4 separate regions of the Homo sapiens genome follow, and regions 2, 3 and 4 are each linked to region 1. Evidence: fine-mapped expression QTL. A gene starts in region 1. Each other region holds a variant in brackets. All regions are shown on one strand. Distances are from middle to middle.

The links. PIP is the estimated chance that this variant, and not a neighbour inherited with it, causes the effect.
Region 2: its variant is fine-mapped to the expression of NME7 in whole blood (TOPMed, PIP 0.96).
Region 3: its variant is fine-mapped to the expression of NME7 in subcutaneous fat (GTEx, PIP above 0.99).
Region 4: its variant is fine-mapped to the expression of NME7 in tibial artery (GTEx, PIP 0.94).

The regions. Positions count from the first base shown.
Region 1 is chr1:169,364,920-169,369,459 of GRCh38, forward strand. It overlaps NME7 (NME/NM23 family member 7), which reads right to left and starts at 2,878. Exons shown (of 12, transcript NM_013330.5): 1 at 2,789-2,878. The coding sequence starts at 2,791. It overlaps BLZF1 (basic leucine zipper nuclear factor 1), which reads left to right and starts at 3,276. Exons shown (of 7, transcript NM_001320973.2): 1 at 3,276-3,423. RefSeq lists enhancers at 2,715-3,914, 2,854-3,355, 3,018-3,097, 3,356-3,855.
Region 2 is chr1:169,331,349-169,339,474 of GRCh38, forward strand. All of the region lies in intron 1 of NME7 (NME/NM23 family member 7), which reads right to left. Among named protein-coding and RNA genes, the nearest start is that of NME7, 32 kb to the right of the region's middle. The variant A/G (reference allele first, on the strand shown) is at 4,882.
Region 3 is chr1:169,281,747-169,289,872 of GRCh38, forward strand. NME7 (NME/NM23 family member 7) reads right to left here. Exons shown (of 12, transcript NM_013330.5): 7 at 5,557-5,662. Among named protein-coding and RNA genes, the nearest start is that of NME7, 82 kb to the right of the region's middle. The variant C/T (reference allele first, on the strand shown) is at 4,208.
Region 4 is chr1:169,312,149-169,318,498 of GRCh38, forward strand. All of the region lies in intron 3 of NME7 (NME/NM23 family member 7), which reads right to left. Among named protein-coding and RNA genes, the nearest start is that of NME7, 52 kb to the right of the region's middle. The variant T/TGAAA (reference allele first, on the strand shown) is at 1,926.

The DNA.
Region 1 (4,540 bases):
TTTTCTATAATTTCTTACTATTCAGAAGTCATGTAGCCAGAGGTCACAAGATTTGTAACTTCACCAATTGCTCCTTTAGATAACATCACTATTGTAAAACCTAAGATTGGTCTTGAGATATTTTCCAGGCTTCTGCATTCTGGCAAACCTCCTGATGCCACCCAGATACATGCCTCATACCAAGAAACTGACTCTACTAGTCCTATGACTCTCACCTAGACAACTGACTCAGCACAGGAAGACAGTTTGGAAACACCTATAAATTCATCCCCAACCAATCAGCAGCGCCCATTCCCTACCAACCTGCCCACAAAATTATCCTTGAAAACCACAACTTCCAAGCTGTCAGGGAGGCGGATTTTAGAAATATTTCCCATCCTTCCACTCAACTGCCTTGCCTCCATTAAACTCTTTCTCTGCTGCAACTCCTGCATTCTCAATGTTTGGCCTTTCTGGGAAGTGGGCAAGAAGAACACGTTGGCCTGTAATAGGAGAATAAATAAGTTTGGCAAGCAACAAGAGGGTGCAAGTATTCTGTGTAGAAGGAATTGCAAGTGCAAAGTAGAAAGAGGAGGCATACTACCAGTTTGAAGTTGCTTGGTATGTTCAATGAAAAGCAAGTAGCTAAAAGGCAAGAGAATTTTTTTTTTTTAAGTATGGAAAGGGAAAGGCAAAAGCTAGACAGAAAAGTGCTTGTTCATGGAGGAACTTGTGTGCCATTCTAGACATTTTACTGTAGGAAATAGGGAATCTAGAGTTTTAAGGAGGTGAGTAAATCAACAGGTTGGGTTTTTAAAAATTCCTTCTTGTGGCAGAGAAAATAATGGATTGGAGAATTTCCAGACCAGACTGTAAAAGTCACTATTAAAATAATCACGAAATGAGGAGATGACAAACTAAAATTTGATCTAGTGAACAACTGAATATGGGAGAAATAGAAGAGGGAGGAATGTAGGATAACTCTGATTTCTAGTTTAGGTTATAATATAGTAGTAGCATTATTTAACTTGGTGAAAATAGGAGAAACCAGGAGGAAAGATAGCAAGTTCAGTTTTGGTCATATTAAGTTTGAAGGACATTTGAGACAGATGTGTCCGGGAAGCAACTGAGTTAGGCATTAGTAGATCTGAGAGGAAAATTGAAATTTAGAAGCAAAATCAAAGGTGTTAGTAGAATCCATGTGAGTGGACAAAATCACCCAAGGAAAATGTCTAGACTAAGAAATGAAAGTAATCAAGGAGTTAATTCCAAAGAATGACATTCAAAAACCAGGCACAGCCAGTAAAAGGAATTAATGACTATGAACCTCAGTTGTCACAAAGAGACTAAGTAATGTAAATTTTGAGAAGTAATTACTGTATTTGGTATTTAAAAGGCCATTAGAAACTTAAGCAAGAACAACTTTCTTGAAGCCATTAAAGAAGCCAGACAGAAGACTTTTGTCTGTTTGATATAAGTAAAAATAATATCCTTTCAAGAAGTTTACTGATAGATAGGAGGACTAGGAAATAACTGGATAAACACAGGATGGAGGACATGGTTTTGCTTTATTTAATTTTCATAAGATGTGTGACTTGAGCACTGAAGAGAAGAAACTGGAGAGGAAAAGGCTGAACGCACAGGAAAGAAAAAAACAACTGGAAGCGAAATGTAACAGATGGAAGCAAATGAGATCAAGAGCAAAGATGGATGGATTATCCTTTAATATCCCTTTCTCTACACTAGAAATACAAGACTAAAGGCTCGGCAAAAATATAGAGCAATGTGTAGGTTGGGGGCATGAGGTTGAAGAAATGGCCTGTTATACTCCATCATGTTTAGAAAGGAGAAATGAAGAGGGCAAAAGACAGGGTTTGTAAAGGGAAGGTTTGAAAATGTCTTCACAGAGAATGGGTCAGGGGAAAACTGGGGTAACCAAAAGGATTGCTGAGTAGTATGAAGAAACAAGGGGTGGTGGGTGAGGGCTCTGTTTCTAAATTCATAGCTATAACTATCTAAAGATCTTTCTATCCTCCAGTCCGTTATCCATAAGTGCTTAAAAGATATGGTAGTTAAGTGAATTAACTAGAACCCTCTCAAACATAGGGGTGAATTAAAATAACCTATAGGCTTATTTAAAATGCAAATACCGAGCTCCATTCCTTTCATTCAGAATTTCCAGGGGTGAAGCCCAAACAGTGAATTCCAGAAGCTCTCCAAGCAATCCCAGGAGAAATTTCTGTTTAAAAAAAAAAGAAGAAGAAAGAAAAGAAAAGAGAAAAGAAAAGCAAGCACAGACCTAGAAGGTAACCAACTGGATAGAAGAGCGCTGATCCAACATACACCTGTTAATGGCCCTCGTGGGGGCGTGGGGCAGTGCTCTGCCACTCAGAAAAGCAAAAAGACTCCAAGATCTAGGGAGATTCAGATCAGTGTTGAGACAGTCACATACACACCACCCCATACTCTTAATAAAGCGCGTTAATGTGAATCTGTGAACATGAAAAATGCCATGATGAACAATGCAAACACATAATGTTTGTTCAAAACAGGTTATTAGACTCGATGCCTTACCCTAAATTTTCTGTTTCATTACTCTAGAGACTTAGTAACATTAGTGGAATTCAGGGTGCTGTAAGAAATACGGAGAGCGAGGAGACTGCAGGAACAGCCCGTGGGAAGGGGGAAAGAGATAACGGGGAGAAGGTCGGGAGGACCGGACAACTTTAAGTGCCCATCCGCCCGAAGACTTGGAAAGCTAAGTAAGTAGGACCCCAGAGCCGTTCTTCTGGCATCCCCTGGCACTCACCATTGTCTCAGGATCTCAGCACTAGAAAATAGGTATCGTTGAGACAGGAAGACACCACCACCACCACCATCATACGGTTACTCAGGCAACAAAGCCCCGCCCACTGTCGCACGAGGCGTGGGACGCCACCGCCCCACCTCTTCGTCCTTAGTGGCTGGGAGTAATCTCAGCTGCGTTCATCCAATCGACAGACCCGCCCCTCCACGCTGTCGCCTGGGGCTACGAGACGCCATTATTCTGTTTCCGGCAGTTTTACTTCCGTTTGTTTAACAGCTGGCCCGGAAGTTTAAGTGAATATGCGGCTTGGGCTCCAAAAGTTGCTGTACGGTATTTTATTTTAAAGTAGAAATCTGTCCGCTTTTCACTTACGGAGGCCTTACAGTGTGTGTTCTGTGTTACTTGAGTTTATACGCACTGCAGAATTTGTTTACCCTGCTCTTTTGGAAACGTATTCCGGAAGCGAAACCCTGAGTAATCGGAAGTGGTTAGGAGTGAGAGAGCTGCTGGATATGCGGAGGGACTGGGCGGGTCGGCTTCCGAATGGAAGAGGTCTGTGAGAAGTTAACCTGGTGATACCGATCCGAAGAGCCTATCAAGTGAAGCCCCCTGAAATACGGAGAATAAGAATCTTAGAGGTAAATCCGAGGACAAGCAGGTATAACTAAGGATGTTGGAAAGGGACGGAGGTCTGGCTGGAGCTCGGTGGCCAGTAGCTTTGGATTTAGGGAAAGATTGTTCCGGGAAGACTTTTTCAGACAGGGATGAAACTTAGGTTTCGACTTCCCCGGACAGCAAAGTTGACAGGCTTGTCGCTTCCCGGCCTATCGCTTTCATACCTGCTCACTCCCCCTACTTACTTCTTCACCCCCTCCGCTTCATTTGGCATTTGCCAGCAGGCACTCGCTGTGCCTGTACGTTTCGCAGAGCAGCTATCAAGGGCAGTTTCAGGGATCGTTACTCTTACGAAGGGTTTTTTGGATACCTCTTTTCGGAGCAGTAGAGTGTAAGTGTAGAAAAGTTTGTGACTGTTAAGAAAGTTAGTCGTCGGGTTCACTAATTGAACTGAGTTGTATCTAGTACTGAGAACGATCTTTTTTTGTAGTGAAACCAGTTGTCATCTAGTGTACAGTTTGTCATATTTATATCATTGCAGTAGCATCACCTTCTTATATGTTCTCTGGTAAATCTGAGTCTGTACTGTAAGACAATGTATACATTTCTGAAAGCATGGGCTCGATATGTTTCTCTTTTTACTTTTGGAGCTACACTATTTTAATTTTAACTTTTTATTACCAAAAAAGTATAAATTATGTTATCTTGAGTAATATTTTTTGTCGTTTGTTAAACATCTAAACAGAAGCTCCTTTTTGATATGTGTGTGTGTGTATACAAATTGTGTCGGTATGTCTCCTAAGAAAGTAATTACTTTAAAATTCCTCTTGTCATATGGATGACAAAACCACCACAGTAACTTCATTCCCTTTGCTTGGCTAAAATTCAGGACATACTTCTGACAATTTAGAGTGTATTGGTGAGGATGGTGAAACGGAGTATTTAGAAGTAAACCACCCCTAATTTTTTTTTTTGAGACTTTTAGTAGACATAACAATGCCTTCTGTGAGAATGGGATATAAGGGACATTTCTCTTTCTAAATGCATGCGTACTAAATACAGAAGCAATTAAAATATCATAACTTTTAAATTGGAGGTACTCTATGTGTTTATATGATATTTTTAAAATTATTTCATATG
Region 2 (8,126 bases), 32 kb before region 1:
GACCCACAGCTAGTATCATACTGAATGGGGAAAAACTAAAAGCCTTTCCTCTGAGATCTGAAACATGACGAGGGTGCCCATTATCACTACTGTTGTTCAACATAATAATGGAAGTCCTAGCTAGAACAATCAGACAAGAGAAAGATATAAAGGGCATCCAAATTGAAAAGGAAGAAGTCAAATTATCCTTGTTTACAGATGATATGATTTTATATTTGGAAAAACCTAAAGACTCCACTGAAAGACTCTTAGAACTGATAAATTCAGTAAAGTTGCAGGATACGAAATCATACAAATATCAGTGGTATTTCTATATGCCAACAGTGAACAATCTTAAAAAGAAATTTTAAAAAGTTATCCCATTTACAATAGCCACAAATAAAATAAAATACCTAAGAATTAACAAAAGAAATGAAGATCTCTACAATGAAAACTATGAAACACTGATGAAATAATTTGAAAAAGACCAAAAAAAAAATGGGAAGCTATTCCATGTTCATGGAATTGGAAGAATTAACATTGTTAAAATGTCCACACTACCTAAAGCAATCTACAGATTCAATGCAATCCCTATCAAAATACCAATGTCGTTCTTCAAAGAATAGAAATAGAAAAAACAATTCTAGAATTTATATGGAACCACAAAAAACTCAGAATAGCCAAAACCATCCTAAGCAAAAAGAACAAAACTGAAAAAATCACATTAACTGACTTCAAATTATACTACAGAGCTATAGTAACCCAAACATCATGGTACTGACATAAAAACAGACACATAGACCAATGGAACAGAATAGAGAACCCAGAAAAAATCCACACACCTACAGCGAACCCATTTTCAACAAAAGTGCAAACAAGATACACTGGGGAAAAGACAGCCTCTTTAATAAATGGTGCTGGGAAAACTAGATGTCTATATGCAGAAGAATGAAACTAGACCCCCTATCTCCAGCCATATACAAAAATAAAATAAAAATGGATTAAAGTCTTAAATCTAAGACCTCAAACTATGAAACTACTACAAGAAAACATGGGAGAAAATCTCTAGGACATTGGTCTGGGCAAAAATTTCTTGAGCAATGCCCCACAAACATAGGCAATCAAAGCAAAAACGGACAAACAGGATCATATCAAGTTAAAAACCTTCTGCACAGCAAATAAAACAATCAACAAAGTGAAGAGACAACCCACAGAATGGGAGAAAATATTTGCAAACTACCAATCTGACAAGGGATTAATAACCAGAACACCTAAGGAACTCAAACAACTCTACAGGAAGAAATCTAATAATCCAGCTACAAAATGGGCAAAAGATCTGAATAGATATTTCTTAAAAGAAGACATACAAATGGAAAATAAGCATATGAAAAGGTGTTCAACATCACTGATCATCAGAGAAATGTCATCAAAACTACAATGAGATATCATCTTATCCCAGTTAAAATGGCTCTTATCCAAAAGACAGGCAATAAAAAATGCTGGTGAGGATGTGGAGAACAGGGGACCCTTGTACACTGTTGTTAGGAATGTAAATTAAAACAACCACTATGGAGAACAGTTTGAAGGTTTCTCACAGAACTAAAAATGATCCAGCAATCCCACTGCAGGGTATATACCCAAATAAAAGGGAATCAGTATATTGAAGAGATATCTGCACTCCTATGTTTGTTGCAGCACTGTTTACAATAGCTAAGATTTGAAAGCAACCTAAATGTCCATCAACAGATGAATAAAGAAAATGTGGTACATATACACAATGAAGTACCATTAAGCCATAAAAAAGAATGAGATCCAGTCATTTGCAACAACAGGGATGGAACTGGAGATCATTATGTTAAGTGAAATAAGCTAGGCAAAGAAAGACAAACATCACATGTTCTCACTTATCTGTGGGTTCTAAAAAATGAAAAAAAATTGAACTCATGGACATGGAGAGTAGAAAGATGGTTATCAGAAGTTGGGAAGAGTAGTGGGAGGCTGTAGGGAAGGTGGGGGTGAATAACAGGTACAAAAAAAATAAAATTAAAAAGAATGACTAAGACCTAATATTTGATAGCAGAGTAGGGTGACTGTAGCCAATAATAACTTAATTGTACATTTTAAAATAACTTAAAGAGTGTAACTGCATTGTTTGTAACAAAAGGATATCAAAAGGATAAATGTATCAAAAGGATAAATGCTTGAGGGGACAGAGCACATTCACCATGATATGCTTATTTCACATTGCATGCCTGTATCAAACTATCTCATGAACCCCATAAATATATATATCTACTATGTACCCATAAACATTTAATATTTTAAAAAAAAAGAAATTTGCCAAGATCACACAGCTTATAAACAGAGGTGAACCCAGGCAGCTTGACTCCAGATCTGCTCTTAGACACTCTCCTTAACTGTGGCAAGAAGGGATGGAAACTCCCTTCTGAGAGACACTGGACTAAGCAGCCTATATAAGCTGCAGTGTTTGCTCGATTTCTAGAAATAGCAACTATATTCTTTCAATTTAACCCCCTATTAAGACAAATCAGGTTTTAAAAACCAACACAACCACAACAATAAAAATCAGGACATACTTATCAGACTTGTAATTCTAACAGTGCACTGAAAAAAATGTACATTGCATTTTTGTAATGCTGTATTTTAGGAAAAATTACTTCACAATAGGCAGCAAAATATTTTTGTTCATACAAAAGTGCTCCCTTCTTTAAATCATACTAAATGGATTCCATAATGCATGATGGAGAAATATCTTAAACTAACTAGAAGTCTTATTTTCATGATTTGCATGTTGAAGGGTCAGTAACTAGTCAATCTATTTCAAGCCAAGTATCTGCTTCTGTTTGACTTCAAAGACATTCTGGAGTAAATTATGTAGATGATAAAGGTTACAGTTCAACAAGCTTCTAAAGTTTAGTCTGAGTCTCCATGAACCCACATTCACCTTGAATGACATTATAATAGAAATCAACAGCATGAGTAATCAAAACAGCATGGTATGGGTAGCAAAACAGACACATACACCAATGGAGCAGAATAGAGACCTCACAAATAATACCACACATCTACAACCATCTCATCTTTGACAAACCTGACAAAAACAAGCAATGGGGAAAGGATCTCCTATTCAGTAAATGGTGCTGGGCAAACTGACTAGCCATATGCAGAAAAATGAAACTGGAACGCTTCCTTACACTTTATAGAAAAATTAACTCAAGATGGATTAAAGACTTAAATGTAAAACCCAAAACCATAAAAACCCTGGAGGAAAACCTACACAATACCATTCAGGACATAGGAATGGGCAAAGACTTCATGACAAAAAGGCCGAATGCGATTGCAACAAAAGCAAAAATTGACAATAGGATCTAATTAATTAAACTAAAGAGCTTCTGCACAGCAAAAGAAACTATCATCAGAGTGAACAGGCAACCTATAGAATGGGAGAAAATTTTTGCAATCTACCCATCTGAAAAGGTCTAATATCCAGAATTTACAAGGAACTTAAACATATTTATAAGAAAAAAACAAACAACCCCATCCAAAAGTGGGCAAAGGATATGAACAGACACTTCTCAAAAGAAGACATTTATGTGGCCAACAAACATGAAAAAAAGCTCAACATCACTAATCATCAGAGAAATGCAAATCCAAACCACAATGAGATACCATCTCACACCAGTTAGAATGACGATTAAAAAGTAGGAAACAAGGTGCTGGCGAGGCTGTGGAGAAATAGGAATGCTTTTACGTTGTTGGTGGGAATGTAAATTAGTTCAGCCATTGTGGAAGACAGTATGGTGATTCCTCAAGGATTTAGAACCAGAAATACCATTTGACCCAGTAATCCCATTACTGGGTATATACCCAAAGGAATATAAATTATTCTACTATAAAGACACATGCACACATATGTTTTCTGCAGCACTATTTACAATAGCAAAGACATGGAACCAACCCAAATGCCCATCAATGATAGACTGGATAAAGAAAATGTGGTACATATACACCATGGAATACTATGCAGCCATAACAAGGAATGAGATCATGTCCTTTGCAGGGACATGGATGAAGCTGGAAGCCATCATCTTCAGCAAACTAGCACACGAACAGAAAACCAAATACTACACATTCTCACTCATAAGTGGGAGGTGAACAATGAGAACACATAGAGAGGGGAACAACACATACCAGGGCCTGTTGTGGGGTGGGGGATGAGGGAAGGGAACTTAGGGGACGAGTCAATAGGTGCAGCAAATCACCATGGCACATGTGTACCTATGTAACAAACCTGCACGTTCTGCACATGTATCCTGATTTTTTTAGAAGAAATATATATAATATATATGTTTATATATTTTATATATATTAAATAAATAATATATATTTAATATATACTTTTATATATTAAATATATATTTATATATATGTTTCAGAAGAGATATATATATATACATATATATAGAAAGAAATCAACACCATCTAAGAACCTGCTCCCTCAAGCCAGCTGCTTCCAGTAAGGGTGAGTGAAAAGTGGCTTCTAAACAAGGAAATTTTCACTTTGCCTTGAACATTCTGAGAACATAGTGTGTCCGGAATTGGTGGGTTCTTGGTCTCACCGACTTCAAGAATGAAGCCGTGGACCCTCGCAGTGAGTGTTACAGCTCTTAAGGTGGCGCATCCGGAGTCTGTCCCTTCTGATGTTCAGATGTGTTCGGAGTTTCTTCCTTCTGGTGGGTTCGTGGTCTCGCTGGCTCAGGAGTGAAGCTGCAGACCTTTGCGGTGAGTGTTACAGCTCTTAAGACAGCGCGTCCGGAGTTGTTCGTTCCTCCCGGTGGGCTCGTGGTCTCGCTGGGCTCAGGAGTGAAGCTGCAGATCTTC[A/G]CGGTGAGTGTTACAGCTCATAAAAGCAGCATGGACCCAAAGAGTGAGCAGTAGCAAGATTTATTGCAAAGAGCGAAAGAACAAAGCTTCCACAGTGTGGAAGGGGACCTTCCCTTCCACAGCTAGCTCAGGCAGCCTGCTTTTATTCTCTTATCTGGCCCCACCCACATCCTGCTGATTGGTAGAGCCGAGTGGCCTGTTTTGTCAGGGCACTGATTGGTGTGTTTACAATCCCTGAGCTAGATACAAAGGTTCTTCACGTCCCCATCAGATTAGTTAGATACAGAGTTTGGACACACAGGTTCTCCAAGTCCCCACCAGAGCAGCTAGATACAGAGTGTCGATTGGTGCATTCACAAACCTTGAGCTAAACACAGGGTGCTGATTGGTGTGTTTACAAACCTTGAGCTAGATACAGAGTGCCGACTGGTGTATTTACAATCCCTTAGCTAGACATAAAGGTTCTCCAAGGCCCCACAAGAGCAGCTAGATACAGAGTGTCCATTGGTGCAATCGCAAACCTTAAGCTAAACACTGGGTGCTGATTGGTGTATTTAAATCCCTGAGCTAGACATAAAGATTCTCCAAGGCCCCACCAGAGCAGCTAGATACAGAGTGTCGATTGGTGCACTCACAAACCTTGAGCTAGACACAGGGTGCTGATTGGTGTGTTTACAAACCTTGAGCTAGATACAGAGTGCCGATTGGTGTATTTACAATCCCTGAGCTAGACATAAAGGTCCTCCAAGGCCCCACCAGACTCAGGAACCCAGCTGGCTTCACCCAGTGGATCCCGCACCGGGGCTGCAGGTGGAGCTGCCTGCCAGTCCCAGTGCCGTGTGCCCGCACTCCTCAGCCCTTGGGTGGTCGATGGGACTGGGCGCCATGGAGCAGGGGGCGGCGCTTGTAGGGGAGGCTCGGGCTGCACAGGAACCCACGGAGTGGGTGGGAGGCTCAGGCATGGCGGGCTGCAGGTCCCGAGCCGTGCCCCGTGGGAAGGCAGCTAAGGCACGCGGTGAGAAATCGAGCGCAGCGCCGGTGGGCTGGCACTGCTGGGGGACCCAGTACACCCTCCGCAGCTGCTGGCCCGGGTGCTAAGTCCCTCATTGCCCAGGGCCAGCAGGGCTGGCCGACTGCTCCCAGTGCAGGGCCCGCCAAGCCCACGCCCACCCGGAACTCCAGCTGGCCCGCAAGCGCCGCACACAGCCCTGGTTCCCGCTCACGCCTCTCCCTCCACACCTCCCTGCAAGCTGAGGGAGTGGGCTCTGGCCTTGGCCAGCCCAGAAAGGAGCTCCCACAGCGCAGCGGTGGGCTGAAGGGCTCCTCAAGTGCCGCCAAAGTGGGAGCCCATGCAGAGGAGGTGCCAAGAGCGACTGAGGACTGTGAGGACTGCCAGCATGCTGTCACCTCTCAATAGCAGATCATTAAAAATGTATTATCTACACAGTAGGCAAACAAGCATAGTAATTCACATTGCTTTACTTAGATGTCACAGTGATAAGTACAATAGAAATAAAAACACAAGGAAAAGGTTTATATTATCCCATTGTCAGAGGCTAGATTTTAAGCACTAACTTGTTTTGTACCTATCCTTTATCAAATAGTCTTCCTCCAGGGCTTCCTTCAAAGACCAAGAAATTTTCTTACATTGAATAGTGTCAAATATTAACCTTACTTTAGTGTGACCATAACCAGTTTTGAGCCTGTCCAGGTTGTTCACAGAGACCTATTCCTTCTTCATAAATCTATCTTGTAAAGACAGACAGAAGGCAAACTCAAGTAAAAAGGGTCTTCACGTGTGAAGAATCTAATTTGTCAACTCCAACTTAGCATTTCTCATTAATAAAGGAAAACAAATTATAACAGAAGGAAAAGTTAGGTGAATCATTAAATTTAGTTAGCTATCCTATTTCACTTAAATTCTTTAAACACTAAGTATACCATTGCAATCACTTTTTGCTTTTAAAAAATTACAGTTTAAAATTTCTTTTGAAAAAATATTTTCAACAGAATTCCACATATTTCCAAGATTGTGTTTTTTAATGTTACTTCAAGACAATATCTCAGAAATAGAATGCATTGTTTTTGTGTTTACAGAAAAAAGTCAGTGATGCAATGAACAGAACACAAACACCTGTATTTCCCCAACTGTGATGTTTAAGATGCACTTTCAACTTAACTCCTGCTAAATTTTGTTAGTGAAAAATGCCAGAAAAGAACCATTTCCACAGTATGAATATATAGCAGGAAGCTGGTCAAACAAGATGGAATCGTTTAAAAAGGCACACATCCAGTTTCAGGGGAGAAACAGCTTTTTAAACTTCTTCACCTTGGGCCCCATAATCTTGAAAATTTTTGCTCTCTGACTTCTGCAGATCACTGCCCAGTGAAAAAACAATGCCACACACCATCTATCAAGGGAAACCTCTCTAAAAAGGTTGAACTTTCCTTTAGACATCTCAAAGAAAACACAGTTATTATGAAGTCTTCCCAGACCAACCCCAGCCAATGTATATTTCTGTTACTTGGAATTTGATTTTCACAGAATTTCAGAGATCAAAGGAACATTAACAATGAGGAAACAGAAGGTCAGATAAGTTAAATGACTTGGCAAAAATGATGTTGACTTGTTAAGTGGCATAGTTTAACAAGGACCCTTGTTTCTTCACGGGCAGACTGATGTTCCCACAGTAGAACACTGGGTTGTCGTCTAATTTTGTATTATACAATACAAATTGTCTCTCTAATAAAATTATGAAATTCTCAAAGAAGCTGTAACATTTATTTCTCTTGAAACTTCAAGGTGGCTCTCCTAGTTCTGGGACCATAAAATACTCAAATAAATATTTACCAAAATAAAGATCTAAAGGAGTAAATAAATGTGCACAGCAATAGATCTTGACAAAATGGCAAAAATCCACTCTTCCATATTCAAAAAACTCCCCCCCAAACTCTAATATTTGTTTGTAAGTCTGTTTACTTATATTTCCAGAAAGATTCTCAAAGAGGACATCTTTTCTTACTTTTTTGGTAAGTATGGGCTTCTCTGACTACCATCTTAAAAGAATATACTTGATAAAGTATTAAGTAACTCCAGGACATGAGTTACCCATGAGAGATCACTTGCCAACAATTAACTGAACCACAATATTCCAAAAAGAGAGATGGCTCTTAATCAATAAATAAATTCTGGGTCTAATTATAATGGCATGAAAATATTTAAGCAATTATAAACTACTCAATGT
Region 3 (8,126 bases), 81 kb before region 1:
ACGTTTATCGATTTGTGTATGTTGAACCAGCCTTGCATTCCAGCAATGAAGCCACTTGATTGTGATGGATAAGCTTTTTGATGTGCTGCTGGATTCGGTTTGCCAGTATTTTATTGTGGATTTTCTCATAGATGTTCATCAGGGATATTGGCCTGAAATTTTCTTTTTTTGTTGTGTCTCTTCCAGGTTTTGGTATCAGGATGATGCTGGCCTCATTTTATGAGTTAGGAAGGATTCCCTCTTTTTCTATTGTTTGGAACAGTTTCAGAAGGAATGGTACCAGCTCCTCTTTGTACCTCTGGTAGAATTTGGCTGTGAATCTGTCTGGTCCTGGACTTTTTTTGGTTGGTAAGCTATTAATTATTGCCTCAATTTCAGAACCTGTTATTGGTCTGTTCAGGGGTTCTACTTCTTCCTGGCTTAGACTTGGGAGGATGTATGTGTCCAGGAATTTATCCATTTCTTCTAGATTTTCTAGTTTATTTGCGTAGAGGTGTTTAAAATATTCTCTGACGGTAGTTTGTGTTTCTACAGGATCAGTGGTGATATCCTCTATATCATTTTTTATTGAATCTATTTGATTCTTCTCTCTTTTCTTCTTTATTAGTCTGGCTAGCAGTCTATCTATTTTGATGATTTTTTCAAAAAACCAGTTCACGGATTCATTGATTTTTTGAAGGGTTTTTTGTGTCTCTATCTCCTTCAGTTCTGCTCTGATGTTAGTTATTTCATGTCTTCTGCTAGCTTTTGAATTTGTTTGCTGTTGCTTCTCTAGTTCTTTCAATTTTGATGTTAGGGTATCAATTTTAGATCTTTCCTGCTTTCTCTTGTGGGCATTTAGAGCTATAATTTTCCATCTAAAGACTACTTTAAATGTGTCCCTGAGATTCTGGTATGATGTATCTTCGTTCTCATTGGTTTCAAAGAACATCTTTATTTCTGCCTTTATTTTGTTATTTATCCAGTAGTCATTCAGGAGCAGGTTGTTCAGTTTCCATGTATTTTGTGCAGTTTTGAGTGAGTTTATTAATCCTGAGTTCTAATTTGATTGCACTGTGGTCTGAGAGACTGTTATAATTTCCATTCTTTTGCACTTGGTCAGGAGTGTTTTACTTCCAATTATGTGGTCAATTTTAGAATAAGTGTGATGAGGTGCTGAGAAGAATGTATATTCTGTTGATTTGAGGTGGAGAGTTCTGTGGAGGTCTATTAGGTCTGCTTGGTTTAGAGCTGAGTTCAAGTCCTGAATATCCTTGTTATTTTTCTATCTCGTTGATCTGTCTAATATTGACACTGGGGTGTTAAATTCTCCCACTTTTATTGTGTGGGAGTCTAAGTCACTTTGTAGGCCTCTAAGCATGTACTTTATGAATCTGGGTGCGCTTGTATTGGGTGCATACATATTTAGGATAGTCAGTACTTCTTGTGCATTGTTCCCTTTACCATTAATGTAATGCCCTTCTTTGTCTCTTTTTATCTTTGTTGGTTTAAAGTCTGTTTTATCAGAGATTCGGATTACAACTCCTGCTTTTTTTGCTTTCCATTTGCTTGGTAAATATTCCTCCATCCCTTTACTTTGAGCCTATATGTGTCTTTGCAAGTGAGATGGGTCTCCTGAATACAGCACACTGATGGGTCTTGACTCTTTACCCAATTTGCCAGTCTATGTCTTTTAACTGGGGCATTTAGCTTGTTTACATTTAAGGTTAATACTGTTAGTTGTGAATTTGATCCTGTCATTATGATGTTAGCTGGTTGTTTTGCCCATTAGTTAATGCAGTTTCTTCATAGTGTCGATGTTCTTTACAATTTGGTATGTTTTTGCAGTGGCTGGTACTGGTTGTTCCTTTTCATATTTAGTGCTTCTTTCAAGAGCTCTCGTAAGGCAGGTCTGGTGGTGACAAATTCCCTCAGCATTTGCTTGTCTGTAAAGGATTTTATTTCTCCTTCACTTATGAAGCTTAGTTTGGCTGGATATGAAATTCTGGGTTGAAAATTCTTTTCTTTAAGAATGTTGAATATTGGCCCCCACTCTCTTCTGGCTTGTAGGGTTTCTGCAAAGATATCTGCTGTTAGTCTGAATGGGCTTCTCTTTGTGGGTAACCCAACCTTTCTCTCTGGCTGCCCTTAACATTTTTTTGTTCATTTCAACCTTGGTGAATCTAATGATTATGTGTCTTGGGGTTGCTCTTCTCGAGGAGCATCTTTGTGGTGTTCTCTGTATTTCCTGAATTTGAATGTTGGTCTGTTTTGCTAGTTTGGGGAAGTTCTCCTGGATAATATCCTGAAGAGTGTTTTCCGACTTGGTCCCATTCTCCCCGTCACTTTCAGGTACACCAATCAAACGCAGATTTGTCTTTTCACATAATCCCATATTTCTTGGAGGCTTTGTTCATTTCTTTTTATTCTTTTTTCTCTAATCTGGTCTTCTCTTTTTATTTCATTAAGTTGATCTTCAGTCACTGACATCCTTTCTTCTACTTGATTGATTTGACTATTGATAGTTGTGTATTCTTCACAAAGTTCTTGTGCTATGCTTTTCAGCTCCATCAGGTCATTCATGTTCTTCTCTGCATTGGTTATTCTAGTTAGCAATTTGACTTCAGCTTTTTTTCATGTGTTTGTTGGGTGCATGAATGTCTTCTTTTGAGAAGGGTCTGTCCATGTCCTTTGACCACTTTTTAATGAGGTTGTTTTTTCTTGTAAATTTAAGTCCCTTGTAGATTCCAGATATTAAACCTTTGTGAAATGGATAGATTGCAAAAATTTTCTCTCATTCTGTAGGTTGTCTGTTCACTCTGATGATAGTTCATTTTGCTGTACAGAAGCTCTTTAGTTTAATTAGATCCAATCTGGCAATTTTTGTTTTTGTTGTAATTGCTTTTCACATTTTGTTCACAAAATTGTTGCCCATGCCTATGTCCTGAATGCTATTGACTAGATTTTCTACTAGGGTTTTTATAGTTTTGGGTTTTACATTTAAGTCTTTAATTCATCTTAAGTTAATTTTTGTATACGGTATAAGGAAGGGGTCCCGTGTCAATTTTCTCCATGTGGCTATCAGTTCTCCCAGCTATATGTGCAATTATTAAGGTATACAACTAGTATTTATTCTAGTACCACTTTATTTTATTTCACTCTCCTTGCAACATATTTTTCCTTGAAAAGGATTAGATCAGGTAAATTGAATAAAACATTTTAGGGTGTCAAGGATAAGCTTTTTAAAAAGTTGATGCCTATAAACAAGAACTTTTTCAAAATGTGAGTGTACTATGTGTGTTTATGTATATATGTATATGTACACAAATATACACGGGTGTATGTATGTGCATGTGTGTGTGTACAGGTTGAATATTCCTTACAGAAATGCTTGTGACAAGCAGTGTTTTGGATTTCAATTTTTTTTTTGATTTTGAAATATCTGTAGATACGTATTTGTGGAGCATACCCAATTCAAAAATCCAATAAACATAAACCAGTGGTTGAAAATGCTACAACGACCATTTCCTTTGAGCTTCATGTCTGTGCTCAAAAAGTTTTGGAGTTTGGAGTAATTTGGGTTTCAGATTTTTGGATTAGGGATACCACACCTGTGTAGACACTCACATACACATACACAATCTCTCCAGCTAAGAAAAATGAGTGAAACATAAAATCCCAGGTTTTTTTCCATAAATTTTCAACACCAGCCATTTCAAATATTACTATCACTTCCTATGGAATTGTTACTAATCATGTGCCATGTGACTTTTTTGTGGCTATTGCTATTAGGGCAATAGAGTATAGAGGGAACAGAATGGAGATTAAAAACAAACAAACAAACAAACAGGGTTTGCATCCTCAATTTCCATTCCAAATTAGGAGAAACAACTTAATCTCATGGAACCTTAGCTTGCCTATCTGGAAAAGAGCAACAAATTTACCTACTTGACATACTTGCTGTGAAGATTAAAAATAATGTATAAGGAACCAGTCTGCCACCTGGCACATAATGGTATATTCTCCATAAGTGTTTGTTATCCATGCTGCATGTTAGTTACTTATAATCATGGTCCTAAGGATTTACAATATACTAAAATACTTCCTAAAAAATTAAAGAAGTATTAATTATGCAGCAAGATCTTTAAGGCTCATATCCTTCCAACAAGTAATTCTATTTCTAGGAAACTAGCCAGAGGAAAAGATTAGAGATATCATCAAATATTTA[C/T]GTATAAAGATATTCTTCAAAGTTTTAATTTTAATATCAAAACACTGAAAACAACCTAAGTATCCAAATACCATACTACATCTATACAATTGCTGTTAAATATTAAAGAATCTATTAAAATATTAATGAGGACTTAACAGCAGCCAGAAATGCTCACAAAAATTATATTTAAACAACAGCCTATAGACCTACATCTCAACCATTACATTCATGTGTAGCAGTGTACACACATGCACATACAAATGCAGAAAAAAATGATTTGGAGGAAATGCATCAAAACATTAACAATGACTATCTTCAGGTGATGGGAATTCAGTATTTTTTTACTTCATTTTTAATGGTTTTTTATTTCCAATTTTCTACTATATACATGGATTACTTGGATACTTAGGAGACATAAAATTTTAAAATCCAATCACTTCTGTATATTATTTAGTATATTCTAGTTTTTTAAGGGTGATCTTTTTAACCATACCCCATCTTACTTCCAAAAAGATTTGAGATACCTAACAAAAATATATATACCAGACTAAAATAAATAAAATAAAGAAATTGAGACAAAAATAAGAAAAGAACTTGCAAACTCTTTCTCTTTATATATGTATATATATGCAAACATGTATATACATACATATGTCAAAGAACTGTTTCAGATACAAAGAACTGAAGGAAATTTCTCCAGCCTTCTCAGAAAGGGTATACTAGAGGTATGGCAGACATTGTTTTAATTTGTACAACAGGAGTGCTATTGGCTGGGCACAGTGGCTCATGCCTATAATCCCAGCACTTTGGGAGGCCGAGGTGGGTAGATCATCTGAGGTCAGGAGTTTGAGACCAGCCTGACCAATATGGTGAAACCCTGTCTCTACTAAAAATACAAAAATTAGCTGGGCATGGTGGCATGTGCCTGTAGTCCCAGCTACTCGGGAGGCTGAGGTTGCAGTAACTCGAGATCATGCCACTGCACTCCAGCTTGGACAACAGAACTAGACTCTGTCTCAAAAAAAAAAAAAAAAAGTGCTATTGAAGTAAATTAAGTGAATCACAATTTGTGATTAGAAAGAGAGAAGGCAGACTAAAAGTCAATTAGCCAAGATCTGTAACAGTATGACTGAGCCTGAGCATGATCAGCAACTCAAAGAACACCTCCTAAAAATCCACAAAGAAAAGACAAATAGAGATTTAGACAGATTTTCCCTTATATTTTGTCACCTTTACTCAAGTGCCTTCAAAGAAAAAAAATGGAAATACTAAAAGTATACTTTATTTTCTATACATAAAGTACATCAAGAAAATAAACATTGCTCTCCTATTAACAAAATGTACTGAATATAGTGTATTCAACATACCTTCACTGACAGCATGGGGTTTAACAATGCAACAGGTACAATTAGTAAATTTAGCAGTGTTTGCCGGCCCACAACCTCCACTTGAAGGAAAAAACAACTCCATTTCCTAAAGACAGAGAGAAATGATTTTGACAAATGTGATCTCTTATCTTGAACTTACAAGATATTTCTGTGGGGGAGGAGAATCATGCAATTACTTTTAGAGTTTCATCATATAAATTTTTTGTTTCAGATTTTCTAAAAATGAGTTTTACAAAGACACACTGATTAAATTAACCCTGTTTCAAGACTTAGAACCAGAAGAGCATATAAAGAAGTATCAATCAAAGCAATGAGAATATGTGTCATTTTGTTCCAGGAATATAGTGGACAAAGATTTAATAAATTTTGAATATTGGAAATACCAATATAAAGTTCTTATTCTCCCCAAAGCATTAGTTAATTAGACACAAATTTAATTTTAAATTTTTCATTAAAATATGTAAAATAAAATTTAAAACTAGGAAATTTTATAGGAACAGAGATTAATATCAGGAATCTGAGAACTACAGCTACTTAAAACTAACTATAGGCCTAGTATAAAATAAAATCAAATGAACCATGTTTTATAAACAGATTCAGGCTGTGTTATTCACTTTGCATGTGGTTCACTAAAATGACAACACAACAATTTGAACTAGCCACAAAGATGTTCACACTAATCAGTTCTTTTAATTATTTAGATGCTTTCCTGTCTCTAAGCTTTCACTGCTATTATTTCTACTATTTCCTATAAAACCCTCTGACTCAAGCTCCAAAGAATCTTACCAATGTGTAAAGAGCCACCTCAAATACCACTTTCCACTAGGAGGCATTTCCTGATGCCTCCTTCCGGCAACCTTTGTTCCCCCAAAGTTATGGTTATTTGGGTACTTATCTTCCATCAAATCATAAATTTGAAAAAGAGGGAACTAAGTTGTATAGCTCTGTAGGACCCCTAGCACCTAAAACAATGTCTGGCTCAATGCAAATAGCCCTTGGTATACACAAGGGATTGGTACTCAAATCCCTGTGTGTACTCAAATCCATGCATGCTCAAGTCCTGCAGTCAGCCCTGTGGAACCTGCTTATAGGAAAAGTCAAATCTCTGTAGATGTGAGTTTCACCTCTTGCAAATACTGCATTTTCAATCCTTCTGTTGAAAAAAATCCACATATAAGTAGACTCGTGCAGTTCAAACCTGTGTTGTTTATGGATCAACTGTATTTATTTTTCATTAAATTTAAAATGAAAAGATTATAGAATGTGTTAATGTGCCACACTGATGAGCATTTTTTTAAACACAAGGATGATGAGGAATTATTCAAATAGTAGTGTATACACCTGAGCATTTCCAGTGGTAAGACACTAGAATAAAAAGTGTTCTATTCCTAAGATACCAACTGCCTTTCTATCATATTGCTGCCATTATTTATTATTCTTTTTAATCAATAACAACAGCAACTACCCCTTTTAGTCCTATACCAGATGCTTTGATTGCATGGTCCGAGAGAACCTTTATGGTACAGATGAAAATTCAAATACCTACAGGGACCTGGCAGATGATCAATGAAGGAATGAAGTAGAAGTGGTGTGACAAGAGAATATGATAGAGTAGCAAACTAGAAAGGGCATGCTCTTTCGAGAGTTCCCATTGGTCTGTTCCCTTCACAACAAAATTCAAAAGAAATGTCTTTCTTTTCCATTTCCATTTTTACTTCCTCTCCTACAGTCTCTTTTAAATCCACAACCAATTAGGTTTTCATTCCACCAAAGCTGCTCATTAAAATCCCTTACTACCTCCATGTTGCTAAGTCCACTGGTTAATTATTCTCAGCCCTCACCTTACCTGACCAACAGTATTTGACACAGTTTGTCACATCCTACACTCTGGAATGCTTTCATTACTTGCCTTTCTTCCTACCTCACTGGCTACTCCCTCTCAGTCTCCTTCGATGGTTTTCTCCTATCTAGCTGACCTCTATGTGTTGGAGAGCACCAGGGCTTAGTCCATCTTTATTACTTGTTCACTAGCAGTTTCTCAATGAATATTTGGGAATGACTGAAATTCAGCACCTAATAAATTCTGCATGTGCTAAACAAAATAAATATATCCACAGTGTACAAATGAGAAAAATGAGACTCAGAAAGCTTAAGTAACAAGCCCTTACAAGTTAGCAAGTGGCAAAGCCAGGATTCAAATCCAAGTGACTGTAGCTCCAAAAACCATGTACTTTTTCTATTATCTGTCTTTCCAAAGTAAAAAGCAGTGATAAATTGTTCTGTCTCTAGTTTAACAAATTATTTAACAATTAATTGACCAATTATTTTTGTCTCAACTTTCCTTTGATTTCTTTTCTCGCTCAATTTTTAAAAATAAAAATGCCAGCTTTCCAACTACCCAGATTTTCAAGTACCATATTTACCTATGCTGAATAAATATTTATTTATAAAGCATAAAGATTTTACATAAATATATCTTCTTAGTGAAACGTGAATAAGAGCGCTTTTACTAGGTCATTGTTATGGCAATTAATTCAAAGTCTTTATAA
Region 4 (6,350 bases), 52 kb before region 1:
GATCATTCACACAGCTGTATTCAGCTAGTGGGCCAGCTGGGGGCTGTGCTCAGCTGAGACAACTAGGCTTTTCTTTCCTGTGGTCCTTAAGGAGGCTAGAGCAGGCCTCTTCAAATACCACCACACATCAACCAATGTACAGGCAATTATCAAGTGTCCCCTTGAGTCATTTTTGCTGACATATCTTTGGCCAATGCAAGTCACGTGGTCAAGCTCAGAGTCACTGTGAGAGAAAACCACAAGGTATGATTCATTGAGAGCCATCAGTGTAACAATCTACCACTTAGTAATCCTCTTGCCTGCACTGAGGCAAGCACTGTAAGATGCAGCGTGAGATATTCTCAAAAGAAAACAAAACATTATAAAAACCACTATTTAAGATTAAAACTTCTTAGCAATACACGGTAACTACTTCTTGTGAAAAAACAGTATGGCCAGCCTTCACGAACCCAGAATATAGATTTCCAGAAAATAACAATTCTCACAGAGCTATGCAATAAATGTCTTCATATACCATCAGGTTCTGAGCAAAAATTGCAGCAAATATATTTCTGAGAAAGATGACTGATTGCAGTACAATAAATGTCCCAGACAGTATAGTGCTATTGCTATGTAATAAAGTCTTAGATAGTACAGTGCTATTAAACATCTTAGATAGTGCAGTGCTATGGACTCTTTAAATGCCATTGACCAAAAAGAATAAATATGTAAACTTTAATCTATATGGGATTCATATTTGTCTTAAGTAAATATTCTATTCTAAACCTATTCTAAAAGTAAACCTATTCTAAACATCAAGGCTAAATTTTTGGTTTTTCTCATACTTTGTTTACAAGCATAAAGTGTATATCTGCCCCATGGATAAAGGAAAACTGTCTCAAATGAGGCACCTGTAATTTGGTGGAAAATTCAGTGATCAAGACTTTTGCTTGGCAACAATAGCAAAATTATTCAGAACAATTCTTCCACCAAAAACTAAAAAAGTTGATATTTTTAAAAAATCTTTTAAAAATTAAAGATAAATTGACTAGATCATAAATAATTACTGGGACAAAAGTGAAAAAAAAAAAAAAACAACCAAAGAATGAAAAGTAAGAATGAAAGTTGTTTTTGACTTGACAGCATTGCCTATCTGGAAAATCTGAACTTTGATTTGCAGTACATCATTGGGAAAGGGTAACAGAACCCAAGAGATGATCCTTCCTAAAATAATTTGGACCCAAAGGCTATACCACCCCCGCTTAAGGTGAATCAGAAACAACCAGGTCTTGAATGGCAATACAAGTTCACATCATCTAAGCAGTCTCAAAACTTAGAATTTTTGAACTACCAATCATACAGACTGCTAATGCCTATGGGAAAAAGACAGAAGCAAAGACAATTAATTCCCTCCTAGTAGGAAAGTAATGTCATCCTGTACCTCAAATAATTCATATGAAAATGCATATCTCACATATATTATTTACATATATGCAATACACCCACACATACACACATGGCAATCATATAGAAAGATAATCACACAGACACATACACACATACAGGGAAAAGGCCAACATGAGGGAAAACCAGGAGAAACAACAGAAAAGAGAGAGACCCACAAATACTTCAGATACTAGGATAATCAGAGAAAAACTGTAAAGTATCTGTGCAAACTATGGTTAAAGGACTAAAAGACAAGCTACAAAACATTATCAGGTAATAGAAAACTGTAAGCTACAAAATGGAATAAGCAGATCTGAAAAAGAATATATTAGAATATCTTGTGATGAAAATACAATAATGAAAATGAGAACTAGATAAAGGGTTTGACAGAAGAAAGCAGATTCAGAATGAAGCACAGAGAAACAAAAAGATACAACAGAGATAAGAAAATAGTTTCATGAATGTAAGTGAAATAAAGACATTTTCAGATGAGTGCAAAC[T/TGAAA]GAGTTTTCTATTAGTAAACACACTCAAAAGGAAAATATTTTTTAAAAATGTAATTTAAGCAAAGGTAAAATAATCCCAAACAGAATGTTTGAGATAAAAGAAAGGATAAAAAGCAAAAAGTGAAGAAACCTAAATGAATACTCATTACATAAAACAATAATAGTAAATCATTAGGTTCATGGAAAAAAAACAAAAAAAAATACACAACAAAAACAGCATATAATTCAGCAAAAATCCCAACAAAAATTGAGCTAAAGTCTTCTGAGATTCTTAGATTTTAAAGAAGGAGGTTAAAATATTAATTAGATTTAAGCTTTATCAAGTTAAGTACATATGTTGTAGTTTCTAGTGTAAATACTAACTGTATATAGAAAAAAAATAGATGAAAAAAATCCTCAAGCAATCCGAACAATCAAAAATAAGATAATAAAACAGGCAGGAGAAGAAAGCTCAGGATAAGATGTCAGAGTTAAAGCCAAGTATATTAGTAGTTACGTTACAAATAAGTGCTCTACAGTAGATGCAGATTATAAAACTGTATTTATAAAAAAATTTTTTTAAAAAGATAATCTGATTGGATTTTAAAGCCTAGATGATAGGTTGAAAGGTGCAGCAAACCACCATGGCACATGTATACCTATGTAATAAACCTGTACATTCTGCACACGTATCCCGGAACTTAAAGAAAAAAAAAGATATAAAAAACAAACAAACAAAAACAAAAACTAATGAAAGGCACACATAGAAGAGAATACTGAAAATCTAAAGTAAAAAGAATGGAAAAGGTATACCATGCGAATGTTAACTAAAAGAAAGCCAGTGCAGCTATAGTAATATCAGAGAAAGTACAGTTTAAAGTAAAAGGCATTGCTAGAGATGAAGATGGTCTCTTCATAGTAATAAAAGATTCAATTTACCAAGAAGATATAACAATTTAAATCACCTAGTAACATACCCTTAAAATTATAATATAAAGACTAACATAACTACAAGAAGAAATAGACAAATGATAATTACATTAGAAAATTTTAATAAAACCTTGGCAATTGATAGAATAAGCTGCCCAAAAATTAGTAAATATGTGAAAGATTTGAACATCACAATTCACAGACTTCACCTAATGAATAAATATATAAAACTATACAAAACAACTGCAGACTAAACATTCCTTTCTTTTCTTTCTTTCTTTTTTTTTTTTCTTTTTTTTTGAGATGGAGTCTCGCTGTGTCACCCAGGCTGGAGTGCAGTGGTGCCATCTCAGCTCACTACAACCTCCACCTCCCGGGTTCAAGCAATTCTCCCACTCAGCCTCCCAAGCAGCTGGGACTATAGGCACACGCCTCCACGGCCGGCTAATTTTTGTAATTTTTTAGTAGAGACAAGGTTTCACCACATTGGCCAGGCTGGTCTCCAACTCCTGACCTCAACTGATCCACCCGCCTCAGCCTCCCAAAGTGCTGGGATTACAAGCGTGAGCCACCACACCTGGCCTAAACATTCTTTTCTAACACACATAGATCATTAATAATTGACTATTCTAAGCCAGAGGCAAATCTTAACCAGTTTGAAAGGCAAAAATCATGAAGAATATGTCCTCTAGACACATGCAATTCAGCTAGATTCCAATACAAAAAGAGAAAAACAAATCTCCGTATGTTTGGAAATAAACATAATTCTAAATAAATAATAAACCAAAGAAGACAACACAAAGAAAGTAAAAAATGTTTCAAACTGAATAAAAATTACATATCAAAAATAATAGGATATAGTTATAAGCAGTTAGAAGGAAATTTATACCCTTAATTGCATATATTAAAAATATTAAAAATTGATAGAATATATAATTCTGTAACTACTAATAGCAGAAAAGGGGAATAAAGAAAATTGGTCAATAACCATCAACTTAGAATTGTGTGTCTAGCAATAGTATCATTAAAGAAAGAGGGTAAAATAAAAAACGTGCAGATTAAAAAGAAACGGGTAGTTTACAATGAAGAAATGAAGAATAACAAGAAGAGAAAATATTCTAAAAGGACAGGTTGATATGCAAGAAAAATTGGTGAACAAATGTTTAGGTAAATCTAAGCAAATGTTGTTTCTATCAAAATAAATAAATAAATAAATAAAAGAATGTCTAACATGCAGGCAAAAAAACTGAATGTCCAAAAACAACAATAATAACAAAACTATGTAAGATTTAAGAGAGAAGATTAGAGCTAAAGTGTCCTAATCTTGTTGTATGAGTTGGGAGAGAGCCATATTATTATAGAACTGTAAGTTAAATATATGAAAAAATTTCAAGCCTAACCAATAAAGAACAAGTATAAAAATCACATAACCTCTAAAGCAACAGAGAATATAGTAGGCAGAATAACACTACCCCTCAAAAATGTCCACATTATAATCTCCAGAACGTATAAATATATTACCTCACCTGCCAAAAAGGACTTTGCAGATGTGATTAAGATTACAGGCCTTGAGATAGTAGAGATTATTCTGGATTATTCCCCTGGGCCCAATCTCATCACATGAGTCCCTAAAGTCAGAGAATCTTTCCTAGCTTTAGAGAACCAGAGAGATGTCAGTGTGAGGAGGACTCAAGCCTGCTATTGGTGGCTTTGAAGATGGAGAAAGGTGGCCCCAAACCAAGGAATGTGGATGGCTTCAAGATGTTGGAATGTGCAAGGAAATTGATTCTTTCCTAGAGCCTCAAGAGAAATGCAGTCTTATCAACACCTGATCTTTACCTGATGAGATCTGATTGGACTTCTGACAGAACTGTAAGATCATAAATTTGTATTGTTTAAGTGACTAACTTGGTAGTAATTTGTTATAACTTCAATAGAAAACCATATAATAGAAAAAAAAAACTGAAGAGAGGAAGAAAAATTTCTTCAACTAATCCAAAGAAAAGGCAAGAAGAAAAAAATAGAAAAACAGGAAAACAGTAAAATAGAAACATATACAAAAATAACAATAATCACAGCATATTTCAATGTACATGTATTAACTTTACCAATGAAAATATAACCATTCCAGATTAAATTGAAAAAAAACCTATATGTTATTTACAAGAGACATATCTAAAGCATAACAGGGCAAGTATAAAAGAGATGGCAAAAAGATATTAATTAACCCAAATACGCTATCAATCAAACCCTTTCTAAGGAAAGATGGCTCAAGCTGGAGCTGAAAAGGAAATTCAACTCTAATCTGTTAACTGACCAAGGACCATATGACTGAGAATTGTAGAATGGAAAGGCAGAATTCTTATTTTACAGAAAAAAATATCAATTTCTCCCTGGGAATTTAATAATGAGAAGGCATTCTTCATTGTATTATTTGGGAGGCAGTTACACTGTTGTTGGGTCTATCGTATAATCAATAGCATGCCATCTTAGACAACGATACTATAGATAAGTAAAGATGAGAAAAAGATTGGGGGTGAGTTTTTAGCAAGGCCTCTGTTACTGAACTAAGGTATTCCTCTAAGGCATTAGGGTGCCCTTCTGCAGCCAAAACTCAACTGCTCACCACTGGTCCTAGGACAATATACAAAGCAACAGTAATTGGTATTGAGGGAAAGGTTTCCCAAAGGTGAGAGCAAGACTAAACTAATATTCATCTGGTCTGTTCCCCGAGAAGTAGCCATAGTCTACTAGAGCATGGCAGCCAATTGGCTTAAAGGTATAAAACCCAGAAAACAACTAGGAATGTGTACTCTTGCTCCTCATGAGTAAAGTAACTTCTATCCCTGTTCCCATAAGAAAGTGCTCTCTCTCTCTACTTCTTCCATTTGCTTCTCCATGTCCGGCCATATTTAAGGGTTTCTGGTTATTTGTGGCCCGACCTCTTTTTTCTCAGACCTGCAGACCCTCAAGTAGGGGATAGTGTACAAGTAAGGGATAGCGTATTGTTCTCCTGCTTTCACATGTTAAGCACATTGGAATCAGAGTCCGGCACCTGCAGTGGAAGCCTGTTTCTCTCTAGTGCTCTCTCTCCTGTGCTCCATGGGCTGGGAGGCAGGATGAGAACCCTGGGCAAGTATGCCCTTAGTTTGTTCTGTAGATCCAACTTTTCCTCAGGCAGGCCTCAAGTTCCAGATCAGTGTAAGGGATAGAGGAAATAGGAATAGAAAGAAAGCCTCAACCATTCTCAAACACGCTTTCACAAGACAGCCTAAGTAAAATTAATACTTAATATTTTGATCTACATCTATCTCCTGTGTTAGTTCTTCATCAGTTAGTAATTTGGAGGGAAGAATGGAGACTAACTGAGCTCAAGAGATGACAAGAAGCTGTTTTAAGGAGGAATGTAAAAGATAAAAAAGAGAAGAGAAATAAGAGAGATCTATGAAGGAGACAAGTAAATTGGTAAGATTAGGTCCCCATGTGGATTTAGGGATAAAATACATATGGAACTCA